Linked DNA regions of Homo sapiens. The protein of the gene in region 1 purifies or fractionates together with the protein of each later gene. This does not show direct contact. Each region holds a gene or a part of one and is shown in the gene's direction. Other genes may lie near its edges.

The links. The genes of interacting proteins can lie anywhere in the genome.
Region 2: the proteins of DERL2 (region 1) and RTN4 purify together in Homo sapiens (affinity purification with mass spectrometry; 3 studies listed by BioGRID and IntAct, with this or other methods). This does not show direct contact.

What each region holds. Positions count from the first base shown.
Region 1 is NC_000017.11:5,470,708-5,476,178, reverse strand, and holds the end of DERL2 (derlin-2), read left to right. Parts: intron 1-1,389; coding exon 1,390-1,495; 3' UTR 1,496-4,925; downstream 4,926-5,471.
Region 2 is NC_000002.12:55,026,452-55,033,497, reverse strand, and holds part of RTN4 (reticulon-4), read left to right. Parts: intron 1-5,277; coding exon 5,278-5,334; intron 5,335-6,012; coding exon 6,013-7,046. UniProt on the Homo sapiens protein: Required to induce the formation and stabilization of endoplasmic reticulum (ER) tubules. They regulate membrane morphogenesis in the ER by promoting tubular ER production.

The sequences.
Region 1 (5,471 bases):
TACATCATAGTACTTAGGGAGTCTTTTGGACATTTACTATCCCCTCCTATGTTCTGCAGTAATTTTTCTTGGGATACCTTGTTAATTTTTTAAAAATTTTGTGGTAAAATAATACCTAACATAAAATTCACCATCTTAACTCATTTTAAATGTTCAGTGGCATTAAGTATATTCATACTGTTTTGCTGCCATCACCACCATCCATAGAACTCTCTTCATCCTACAGAACTACAACTCTGTACTCATTAAACAACTCCCCACCCCAGCCATCACCATTCTATTTTCTTTCTCTGAATTTGACTACTCTGTACCTAAGTGGAATCATACAATATTTGTCCTTTTTTGTCTGGCTTATTTCTTATTTCATTTAGCGTAAAGTCCTCAAGGTTCATCCATGTTGTACCATGTGCCTGAATTTCCTTCCTTTTTTTTGAGACAGTCTTGCTCTGTCGCCCAGGCTGGAGTGCAATGGAGCAGTCTCAGCTCACTGTAACCTGTGCCTCCCAGGTTCAAGTGATTCTTCTGCCTCAGCCGCCTGAGTAGTAGCTGGGATTACAGGCATGCGCCACCACGCCAGGCTAATTTTTGTATTTTTGGTGGAGACAGGGTTTCACCATGTTGACTAGGTGCAGTGGCTCATGCCTGTAATCCCAGCATTTTGGGAAGCCGAGGCAGGCAGATCACCTGAGTTCAGGAGTTCGAGACCAGTCTGGCCAACATGATGAAAACCTTCCCTCCTAAAAATACAAAAATCAGCCGGGCGTGGTGGCGGGCGCCTGTAATCCCAGCTACTCGGGAGGCTGAGGCAGGAGAATTGCTTGAATCCGGGAGGCGGAGGTTGCAGTGAGCCGAGATCGCACCATGGCACTCCAGCCTGGGCGACAGAGTGAGACTCCCGTCTCAAAAAAAAAAAAAAAAAATTCTATTATATGTGTGTACCGTATTTTGTTTATTCACCTGTTGATGCACACTTGGGTGATACCTTGGTTATGGGGAAACATTAATGATAAATATGTGAAAGTCAGGTTACAAAACATGTAGTGTGATCTAACTTTTGTAAAATGACATAATGTAAAAATTCCCAAAGAATAACTAAAACATTGACAATAGTTACCTCTGGAAATTGAGGATATTTTGCTCATCTCTATTTCCTCCTTCTCTGTAATTATTATGATTTGGATTGCTTTTGTAGTAAAAATCAGTAAAAGATAAAAGCTAATGTAAATGTTAATAATTATAGATGCTCTTACAATATGTTAACTGTTTAATTGGCAGGCAGGTGTAATGCTTACCTATTGGTGGAAACCCTATGGGGCCTGAACTGACCTTGTAGTACTTTGGACCTGAGATGACTCTGGGACCAAATTATATCTGTTGCTTGTCTTTTAGGAAAGCTATTTTTGATACACCAGATGAGGATCCAAATTACAATCCACTACCTGAGGAACGGCCAGGAGGCTTCGCCTGGGGTGAGGGCCAGCGGCTTGGAGGTTAAAGCAGCAGTGCCAATAATGAGACCCAGCTGGGAAGGACTCGGTGATACCCACTGGGATCTTTTATCCTTTGTTGCAAAAGTGTGGACACTTTTGACAGCTTGGCAGATTTTAACTCCAGAAGCACTTTATGAAATGGTACACTGACTAATCCAGAAGACATTTCCAACAGTTTGCCAGTGGTTCCTCACTACACTGGTACTGAAAGTGTAATTTCTTAGAGCCAAAAAACTGGAGAAACAAATATCCTGCCACCTCTAACAAGTACATGAGTACTTGATTTTTATGGTATAAGGCAGAGCCTTTTCTTCCTCTTCTTGATAGATGAGGCCATGGTGTAAATGGAAGTTTCAGAGAGGACAAAATAAAACGGAATTCCATTTTTCTCTCACTGTATTAAAGCTTTTGTGTGTGATCTTTTAAATTCTGATAATGTATTGTAGCCCTCCTGCGTAGATCTGAGCTCAGAACAGTTTACACAGCTGTTCTTCCTGTGTCTTCACAACTTTTAACTGGATTTCATTTCAGGATTGGAAATACGTGGCTGTCATGCTGTGGTTGTGTACATCTTACTAACTCAGAATGCAAGATTCAGCAGGAAGATGATTTATTTCTGTCATCTGGATAGGTTGTTTTGCATCTGGGTTTTGCCAAACTTTGTCAGACAACATGAAAAAAAAGGAGGGAGGATGGTTCTTGTAGCAGTAGGAATTCAGCTATAGGAAAGTCAGCTGTAAGCTAATGTGGCATCTTATTTGCTTTACTTACATTTCTCCATTAAGAAGTATCCAGGGAAAGATTGGTAAGGGCCACATTTTTGTAAAACTAGGAAGATTTTCATTAGACTTTTTTTTTCTTTTATTTTTAAAAAAGTTTTAATTAAAAATTTTTTTTTAAATACAGATGGGGTCTCACTGTGTTGCCCAGGCTGGTCTTGAACTCCTGGACTCAAGCAATCCTCCCACCTCAGCCTCCCAAAGTGCTAGGATGACAGGCATGAGCCACCATGCCCAGCCATTTTTTTTTTTTTTGCCTTTTTTGTTTTGTTTTGTTTTTTGTTTTTTTAATTAAAAAAAAAAAATAGAGACAGGGTCTCAGATTTTCATTAGATTTGGAAACCAAGTTAGAATGTTGACTTTGGAGCCAGACGAACAGATACCAGTTAGCTAGGCATATGTTCTTCCAGGGTCTTTGGCTAGTTAACATTAGTCATTTGCTTCGTGAAAATTCAAGAACCTTTTCAGAGCCAAGTACCTGGATTACCTTCCCAATCAGGTAGAAATTAGACAGGGTCCACAGAAGTAGACACTTAATGCTGTGGTTCAATAAATACTTCCCCTAAATATTAAGTCTTCCCTGAGTCTCAGCAGGTTTGCATTCACACTGCTTAAGTAACTTCCAGAACCTGGAAGAGTCGAAAGAGCACCCCTAGGAAAGAGATGATTCCAAACAGCTTTCATTAACGGCATGTAGGCACAGGTCCCTTTCCCAAAAGTGGATTGTTAGTAGTAGTTCATTCAACCTTTGTTAAGGGGTAGCTTTCCAGAATGTGACATTGTCCTCAGAAAGATAGACATAGGCTTAAACATAATGGACATCCTAAATAGGAATTTTCAGATTGTTTTTGAAGTGAAAAGTGTTTTAATGTCTTTAAATGGAATTGCATAACTAATGGTATTTAAGTATTTTACATGTTGCTAATAACTTTGAATATGATTGTTGCAATTTTATGGAACCTGGGTCTATGGGACTGCTTTTTAAGCAGTTTAAAAAAGGTTTTCAAAGTTTAAAAGCCAATCTTAGCATGTATAATCCTTATGGGATTCTTAAGTTTTATCCTATCTTGTTTTTGCTCAAGAACGCTTTATCAGTGACGTTTGTTAGAATTTTGTTTTTTGTTTTTTTTTTTTAAATTGTTTTTGGGCTAGAAATGAGTTTCTCTAGTTTTATTTGTTCTCCCTGAGTTGGAGTTATGCAATGAATGGCATTTTTGTGGTAAAATACTAATCCTAAAATCTGTTAACTCACTGTTCATTTAAGTAGGGAATATCTGTATACATTAATGACTAGGTAAAACAGGAAATACATTTTGAATATACAGCCTAAAGGCAGGCAGTTACAGGGTTTTTGATTTCTCCGATTTTATAGGGTGCAAGTTCCCAGTGGCAGGATGCCCTGCTGTGTGACTGACTACACTGTGTCCTGAGCAGTGGTAATTTCAATCACCTCTCATCAGTTTGGCCAGCCCTACAACCACCATTCCTAGCCCTGTGTTGCTTGACAGGATACCTGTGCTTGAATGGACATAAGGAAAAGTCCTTACTTTCTCCCCAATTTACCTCTCAATCTTAGTTCTTCCAGAACACACTTCCCTTTCACAATGCAAATAAACTGAAAGTGAGATTTGATACATGGAATTTTGAGACCAACCAACTAACCTTACACATAATTTGAGGGATTCCTGGATTCTTCTAGTGATACTGAAAAGCACACTTGACTAAAGCATAGTGTTTTTTGTTTGTTATGGAAATACGGTATACGTTCATTTAAAAATAAATGGACATACAAATTGCATCTCCTTAGGAGATACATTTTATATACATTTCGGTGCGTTTTTTTCCAGTATGGATTTCTATTTGTTTCTCTCTTCCTCTTGTTTTTTCTGTGTCACTCTTGTATGTCCTCATATCTTTCATACCTCTTGTGTAGTCTCTAGAAGCAGAACACCTAAGTCCTGGGTCTGGATAATGAAACCCTCAGTCTCTGGGGCCTCTGAAAATAAGGAAGCATTGGAGCTATTGCCATGTTGAGTAATGGGCTTCCTAGAACTATTGTCATCTATCCTGCCAGTGTTTTATGTTGTAGCTGTTTTTCTTTGACAGGTGAGTTCCAGCTATGTTGTTAGTCATGATCCTGCCATTATTTTCTGTGTTCTGTAGGATGTCTCCAGGCTACTTAAACATATTTTATGAGTTTGCAATAAAATTGTTGAATCTTGTATGATCAAGTCACTCCTCTGCTCAGAAATCCACAGTGACTTCTTAGTAAGCCCCTACATTATATGCATACTTGTTTTTTTCTTAACTTTACTCCCACTTCTACCTAACAGGGACCTCAACTTAAGTCTCTTCAGTTCTTCAAGGCCTGGCCTTGTTCCTGATTCCTCAAAAAATCTTGACTCTAAGGCCTATTTTATTGTCTGTCTCTGAATCCCTATAAAGCTTCAAGTCTGTATGACATTCTTAACGCCAAATTATATATTGTCTTGTACTGTTCCTAGCTGGTACATGTATATTAGTCTTGTCTCCCTCATGAGAATGTAAGCTCCTTAAGGGCAGGGACCATGTCTTAATTTTTGTATCCACCACAGTGCCTAGCACAGTGCTTGGCACATGGGTGCTGAATAAATACCTTTGTTTATTGATCAGCAAAGTATTATCTGGTATTTTTAATTATAGAGGGATTAAAGTGTATGCATGCAAGCTTGAGCCTAGTTGCTGAAGCTTGTGGTTGTCTCTGAAAGTGGGATAGAGGGAAACTGAACATGATCAAGGGCAGTAATTTGGTGGTCGGAAAAGCAAAGGTGACCACCAGCTGTTATGGTCGTGATCAGACCAGTTAAGTCCACAGACCATCCCAGACAAGTTAAAAATGAAATGTGTCTGACACTTCGTCGTTTGAAGGAAGAACCAGGATATTCTCTGAATAGTTATTAGCTTGTCAGTATCTACATATGAAAGCTGGTGAACCCCAAGAGACTTCTTCAGGAGAAACAGCAGATTTCAGTCTACCAATGGGAGAAATGTGAGCAGCATGGCTTGATGCATATATAGGACTTAATTTTTCCACTCTTTGGTCCTCTTAGCTTTGAGGCTATAGAATAGCTGGATCATTAGGCCAGAGATTATGGATGAGTTACCTACAGATTTGTTACCTACCTATGTGCTTTGTTTTGACAGTACTTTTTTTTTTTTTAAG
Region 2 (7,046 bases), on another chromosome or scaffold:
GCTGGGAACTTGTACTTTGGATGACCCGCTCTGGTTTGCCTGCTCTGCTCATTGCATGTCCTGAAAGTGCTGCAAGTATGGATTTTGGGGCTACAAATTTAGTGAGCAGGTAAATGAGCAAATAAGGAATCCATGAATAATGAGGATCATCTGTATATAATTTTAGATTGTCAGTTTTTTCATAACTTTAAAGGCGTTCATTACCTTTTGGATTACATCAATGAGAGGTGAGGTCATTCTTATTGTTGTTTACCTGCTTTTTTCCTCTGACTGTTTTTAGGGTTGTCTCTATCTTTGATTTTCAGTTTGACCCTTATGGTGTGCCTTTTTGTGGTGTTGTGTTTATTCTGCTTGGAGTACATTGAGCTTTGTGGCTCTGTTGGTTGGTATTTTCAAAATGCCAACTTCTGTCCAATTTTAGGCCATTTTTTCTTTTTTTTTTTTTTTAACTTCTTCAGTCTTTTTTAAAGAGACAGGGTCTTAACTGTGTTGTCCAGGGTGGAGTGCAGTGGCGTGATCATGGCTTGTTACAGCCTCAAACTCCTGGGCTTGAGTGATCCTCCCATCTCAGCCTCCTGAGTTGCTAGAACTGCACGTGTGCACCACTACACCGGCTAATTTTTAAGTTTTTTGTAGAGATAGGGTCTCACTGTGTTGTCCAAACTGGTGTCCCAACTCCTGGCCTCAAGTGGTCCTCCCACTTTGGCCTCCTAAAGTGTTGGGGTTACAGGCATGAGCTCCCATGCCTGGCCACTGTTGCTTTTTTTAAGGGGACTGCAATTATAGGTATTTTAACTCCTTGATTGTCTCTCAGCACTGAGGCTCTGTTCCTTTTTTCACTTGCCCTTTTCCCTTGTTGTGTTTCAGTTTGGATACTTTCTGTTGTTGTTTTTTAAGTTTGTTTATCAATAAATCTTTTTTTCTGTATTGTCTAATCTGCCTTTAAGCTCATCTAGTGATTATTTTCAGTTAATATAATTTACAATTCTAGCATCTCCATTTGGTCCTTTAGTCTATATTTCTCCACCAAGATTCCCTGTCTACTCTATATGTCTGTCTTTTTCTGTACTTAATATCTTAATAGCTATTTTAATTTTCATTTTAATATTTGCTAATCCAGGCCAGGTGTGTTAGTTCACACTTGTAATTCCAGCACTTTGGGAAGCTGAGGCTGGCGGATCACTTGAGGTCAGGAGTTTGAGACCAGCTTGGCCAACGTAGTGAACCCCGTCTCTACTAAAAACACAAAAATTAGCTTGGTGTGATGGCAGACACCTGTAATCCCAGCTACTCAGAGGCTGAGGTGGGATAATTGCTTGAACCTGGGAGGTGGAGGTTGCAGTGAGCCAAGATAGCCCCGCTGTACTCCAGCCTGGGTGACAGAGCAAGACTCCGCCTCAAAAAAAAAAAAGTGCGAATCCAACGTCTACGTTATTTGTTTGTTTATATTTGCTATTCTTTCTTATTTATGGTCATATTTTCTTGCTGCTTTGCATGTCCATTAATTTATTTTATACTGCATGTCATGGATTTGGTGGTTTTAACTTTGTTCTGGCAGGCAGTTAATTTGCTGGAAAATCATTTTGATCCTTTCAAGTTTTGATTTTAAAGTTAGGGTGGGTCTAGAGGTAGGGGTCTGCAGACTTACAGGGCCAGTTAGAGTAAATAGTTTAGGCTTGTGGGCCATACAGCCTTTGTCTAAACTGTTCGTCTCTGTTTTTATTGTGCAAAAGTAGTTATAGACAGCACAGAAGTGAATGGGCGTGGCTGTGTTCCAATACAATATGGGCTCATGAGCCATGGTTTGCTGACTCTTGGTCTAGAGTATCCTTTAGGCTTAGAGTAGTCCTGCTTGAGGTGTTTAGAGAGATCTTTCCTTTCTGACTGGTCAGAATTTTTAGATCAGGTCTTCAGCACTTTCTGACCTTCGATATAATCCAGTTAATTTGCAGCTCTACCATAGGTTTCTTGGCTAGGCCTTGCCGAGTCTTGTGCTGTGCACATGCAGCGTAGTATTCACCCAGAGGTTTAAGAGGAACCCCTATCCAGATTTTTGGAGCTCCTTTTCTGTGAGGCTTTACTTTGTATGTTACCCTGTCTCACAAATTCCAGACAACTCCTCAGCCTCCTCAGCTTAGCAAGAGTGCGGTATTCTTAGGCTTCTCTCTGTACTGTAGACCAGAATGTGCCTTCAGACAGAAAGCAGCGTAGTCATCTTGCAGGTTTCCCTTTTCTCAGGATTCACACTGCTGTCCTGCCTCTTGTCCAGTGTCTCAAGATAGTTGCTTCTAGTATTTTGCCCATATTTTTAGTTGCTTATATTGGAAGAATTAGTCTGTTGTAATTACTCTCATAGCCAGAAGCAGAAGTTCTATGGTTTTAAAATGCAGGTTTTTTGTAGTATTGTAATTAGATATGATTTAAATGCCTCTTTTCTCGTATGTGAAATGGGGGTAACAGTAGTACCTACCTTACAGGGTAGTTTTGAGAACAGAATGAACATCTGAAACAAATGTGCCGGCTCAGCACAGTACCTGTCCCACATTAATGTTTCTATAAATGTTGTTACATTGTAAAATAGAAGCAATTGATCAATGCAATATTTCTGCTAATTACAAGGTATTTACTGGGTGACGATTTACCTTGTTTCAGGAGAACTAACTTGAGGGGCTGATACAGTAAGAAGGATTGCACCAGTTGCACTTGTACATAAATACATCCTTCAGAAGATGAAGCACATCTCGTGCTTTGAGGAAGCCTAGCCAAAAAATAATAATAATTATAAAGCACAAAGACTTGGGAATTAGATGTTTTGACCCTCTGGCCTCCTAGTTCTGTGACTTAGGGCAAGTTGTTTCTTCTTTTTTCTTTCCCTCTCCCTCCTTCACAACATTTTTAGGTGGGTACTCTTATTATCCTTATTTTACAAGTTTCATTAGGCACAGAAAGGCTAAGAGTTACAGTTGTAAGTGATGGATTTGTGATTTGGACTTAGGCAATTCAATTTCATGATCTGTGATTGCTTTATTAGGAGTCTGAACTGTATTCTTGAAGTCCCAGAAGATAGTTAACTATTCTGGATTTTTTTAAAGAGCTTTTAGAAATGTAGTACTTGTTTTATGGGTAACTGGATCGAATCCCATTTTACAAAATGAAGATTTTTCTTTTTTTCTTAAACATAATGAATCTTTGAAATACCAATTTGAAAACTTTTTTACTTAGAAAAATTCCAGGAATATAGTTTTTATTATAAAAGATTATTGCACTAGGTAGGAATAAGAGTACAGTACATTAAAAAAATACTTTAAAATTATGGCACAAATTTAGATGTAGTTTGTTTTCCCACTAACTTTAACAGTAATATATGTTTCTAGTTCACTTTCCAGATAGACTAGCCTCTGAATTAGTGGCTTTTAACTATATTGTCTAGATAAAAAAGACAACCATTTTGTTAAGAATTGGTTAACTGTTATTTAGATGGAGCAGCTGCGTAATTATTTGGTTCTGCTCTTTGACCCTCAAATTTCAGTTTTATACAAGCTAATAATTCATTATTTTAGCTGAAGGGAACTTTCCTTCATTTTACAAATGAGAAACTGTAATTTAAGATCACATAGCAAGTAATCTTTTAAATATGTGTACACATATATATGCACTTTATTTAAAAATCTTATAAGCCATTATGTTACCCCTTTGACTGGATAGCCCATCCTACCTAGTGCTCTAGGTTGGAGGAAACCCTTTTAAACACACATCATAAATTTCCCGTCATCACCCTCATCTAGGAATCCTTTAAGTATGACTTCATGCCCAGTATATATTTATCTAAAATATATAAGACCTTGTGAAGTTAGCTCTCCTAATTCATTAAGGGTAATATGCTTGGAAGACAAGTCCGTATTCATGTTAGCTACATTTCTTGGATTTTTATCTGTTTTGATCAGCCTTGTCTAGCTTGTCCATCCAGATGAAATTGTCTAAATTTATTAGGTTCTCTCTGTTAAAGGAATATCACCTTCCAGTCATCTCTCAGGCTGTTTCAAATTGTCTGATGGTAGAGGCCTTTCTCTAGTGTAAACCATGGAAGATCTTTAGCTTAGGATCTCCCAACTGCAGGTACAAGATGACATTGTACAAAGTTAATATTACCAATATAGAGTGTATTAGTTAGCTTGGGCTGCCGTAACAAAATACCATAGGCTGGGTGGCTGAACAGAAATTTACTTCTCACAATTCTGGAGGCTGGTAAGTCTAAGATCAAGGTGCTGGCAAGGTAGATTTCTTTTTGAGGCCTCTTCTCCTGGCTTATAGGTGACCACCATCTCACTGTGTGCACACATGACCTCTTGTGTGTGCCTGGGGAGACAGGGAGCATGACAGCAAGCTCTCTGGTGTCTCTTCTTGTAAGGGCATTAATCCCCTTGGCCCAGGGCCCCACCCTGACTGCATTTAACCCTAATCACCTCCCAAAGTCCCCATCTTCAGATACTATCACTTTAGGGGTTGGGGCTTTAACATGAGTTTTGTAGGAAATATAAGCATTCAGTTCTGTAACATACAGTGATTAAGGAAATGGGCTCTGGAATTGAATTGCCTTAGTCTCTCACTTACTAGTTGTGTATACAAATAACAAGTAGCCCTCACTTAGGTTAATTTTAAGCAAAACCAATAATGGTGTCATCCTAAAGGCAGTTAATTTTTTTTTTTTTTGTATTTTGGACTCTGGCATTTGGACATTGGCACAGGACTAATGTCTTCAAAGAGCAATGTACAATGACTGTAACAACTTAGAATGTAAGAGAAAATGCATAATTCTTTAAAAGTGTTTCTTTAAATTGAATATATGCCAATAACAAAAGATTAAACATTTGTAGTTGTTAATTGTATTCAAATTCAGCTTTTTGTTTTTGGCCTGAATAGAACAAGACAATTTACCTATGTGAAAACCTGAGTGAAAGCTTGGGATGTGATATGTTAAGTAGAACAGTATTTTAAAGCCACTTTGATTCATAAGTTTCTTTAACATAAACAGGTTGTATTGCCTCTTGAAAAATGATAGGTTCTATGGATAACATTTAATTAGCTTTATAATACATATGATGATTTAACCTGAATTAATGGTACTACTTTTTCTGACTTCCTTTTGATCTTGGCCCTTTCTCTGTAAAGTTTTTTGTTAACTTATTACAAACTGAACCCTGGCTTGCTCCTCTTATCTTTAGTCTCCTTTCAATCTGTCTTTATTTCTGCTGAGGTTATATTCTATTTGTTTTTCAGATGAGACCCTTTTTGCTCTTCCTGCTGCATCTGAGCCTGTGATACGCTCCTCTGCAGGCAAGTTCTTTCTGCCAGCCTTTTATCCTCTCTGTATTCTAACTTTAACTCTTTAGTGTGTTAACACTATGCAGAGTAGTTTGGGTTTACTAAAAATTAGCATGGTTCCGAGAATGTTTTGTCTACTGGAAAAGTTGAAATGTGCATTTTATATGGTATGCCCAAGGGAAAAATGAGCAAAATCTGATGAATACTTGGAAGTACATAAGGAATTCTTGGACCCTTGAATTACATTTACATATTTACCATTCCCTTTCTCCAAATACAGTTTGAGTATAGCCAGAAAGGCTTTCCTGTAAATAAATACCAGTCTATGGCATTTACCCAGTGCCCCTTCTTTCCTATGCTGTCACCGAAACTCTTTTCACAGATATTCTTCTCTTCTCTAAAACTAGCTATTAGTATCTTAGTTGATAACATTTGAGGTTTACTCAGACTTGATTTGTCTTTGCACAGCATGTAATTGCCTCTGTAGCCATGCATATGTTATATTTACAATAGCTTAATATTTTCAGTAATGATTGAAGTCTACTCTATTGTTACTTATTAATTGCTATTAACATTTCATTTTAGTAAACAGTAAGTCTTTACTAACACTATTTTGGATCTGTCATAAAACTTGCATTAACTCTGAGAACACTGGCATTCTCTAACTTTCCTTTCTGTCCATGGTCACAGAAAATATGGACTTGAAGGAGCAGCCAGGTAACACTATTTCGGCTGGTCAAGAGGATTTCCCATCTGTCCTGCTTGAAACTGCTGCTTCTCTTCCTTCTCTGTCTCCTCTCTCAGCCGCTTCTTTCAAAGAACATGAATACCTTGGTAATTTGTCAACAGTATTACCCACTGAAGGAACACTTCAAGAAAATGTCAGTGAAGCTTCTAAAGAGGTCTCAGAGAAGGCAAAAACTCTACTCATAGATAGAGATTTAACAGAGTTTTCAGAATTAGAATACTCAGAAATGGGATCATCGTTCAGTGTCTCTCCAAAAGCAGAATCTGCCGTAATAGTAGCAAATCCTAGGGAAGAAATAATCGTGAAAAATAAAGATGAAGAAGAGAAGTTAGTTAGTAATAACATCCTTCATAATCAACAAGAGTTACCTACAGCTCTTACTAAATTGGTTAAAGAGGATGAAGTTGTGTCTTCAGAAAAAGCAAAAGACAGTTTTAATGAAAAGAGAGTTGCAGTGGAAGCTCCTATGAGGGAGGAATATGCAGACTTCAAACCATTTGAGCGAGTATGGGAAGTGAAAGATAGTAAGGAAGATAGTGATATGTTGGCTGCTGGAGGTAAAATCGAGAGCAACTTGGAAAGTAAAGTGGATAAAAAATGTTTTGCAGATAGCCTTGAGCAAACTAATCACGAAAAAGATAGTGAGAGTAGTAATGATGATACTTCTTTCCCCAGTACGCCAGAAGGTATAAAGGATCGTTCAGGAGCATATATCACATGTGCTCCCTTTAACCCAGCAGCAACTGAGAGCATTGCAACAAACATTTTTCCTTTGTTAGGAGATCCTACTTCAGAAAATAAGACCGATGAAAAAAAAATAGAAGAAAAGAAGGCCCAAATAGTAACAGAGAAGAATACTAGCACCAAAACATCAAACCCTTTTCTTGTAGCAGCACAGGATTCTGAGACAGATTATGTCACAACAGATAATTTAACAAAGGTGACTGAGGAAGTCGTGGCAAACATGCCTGAAGGC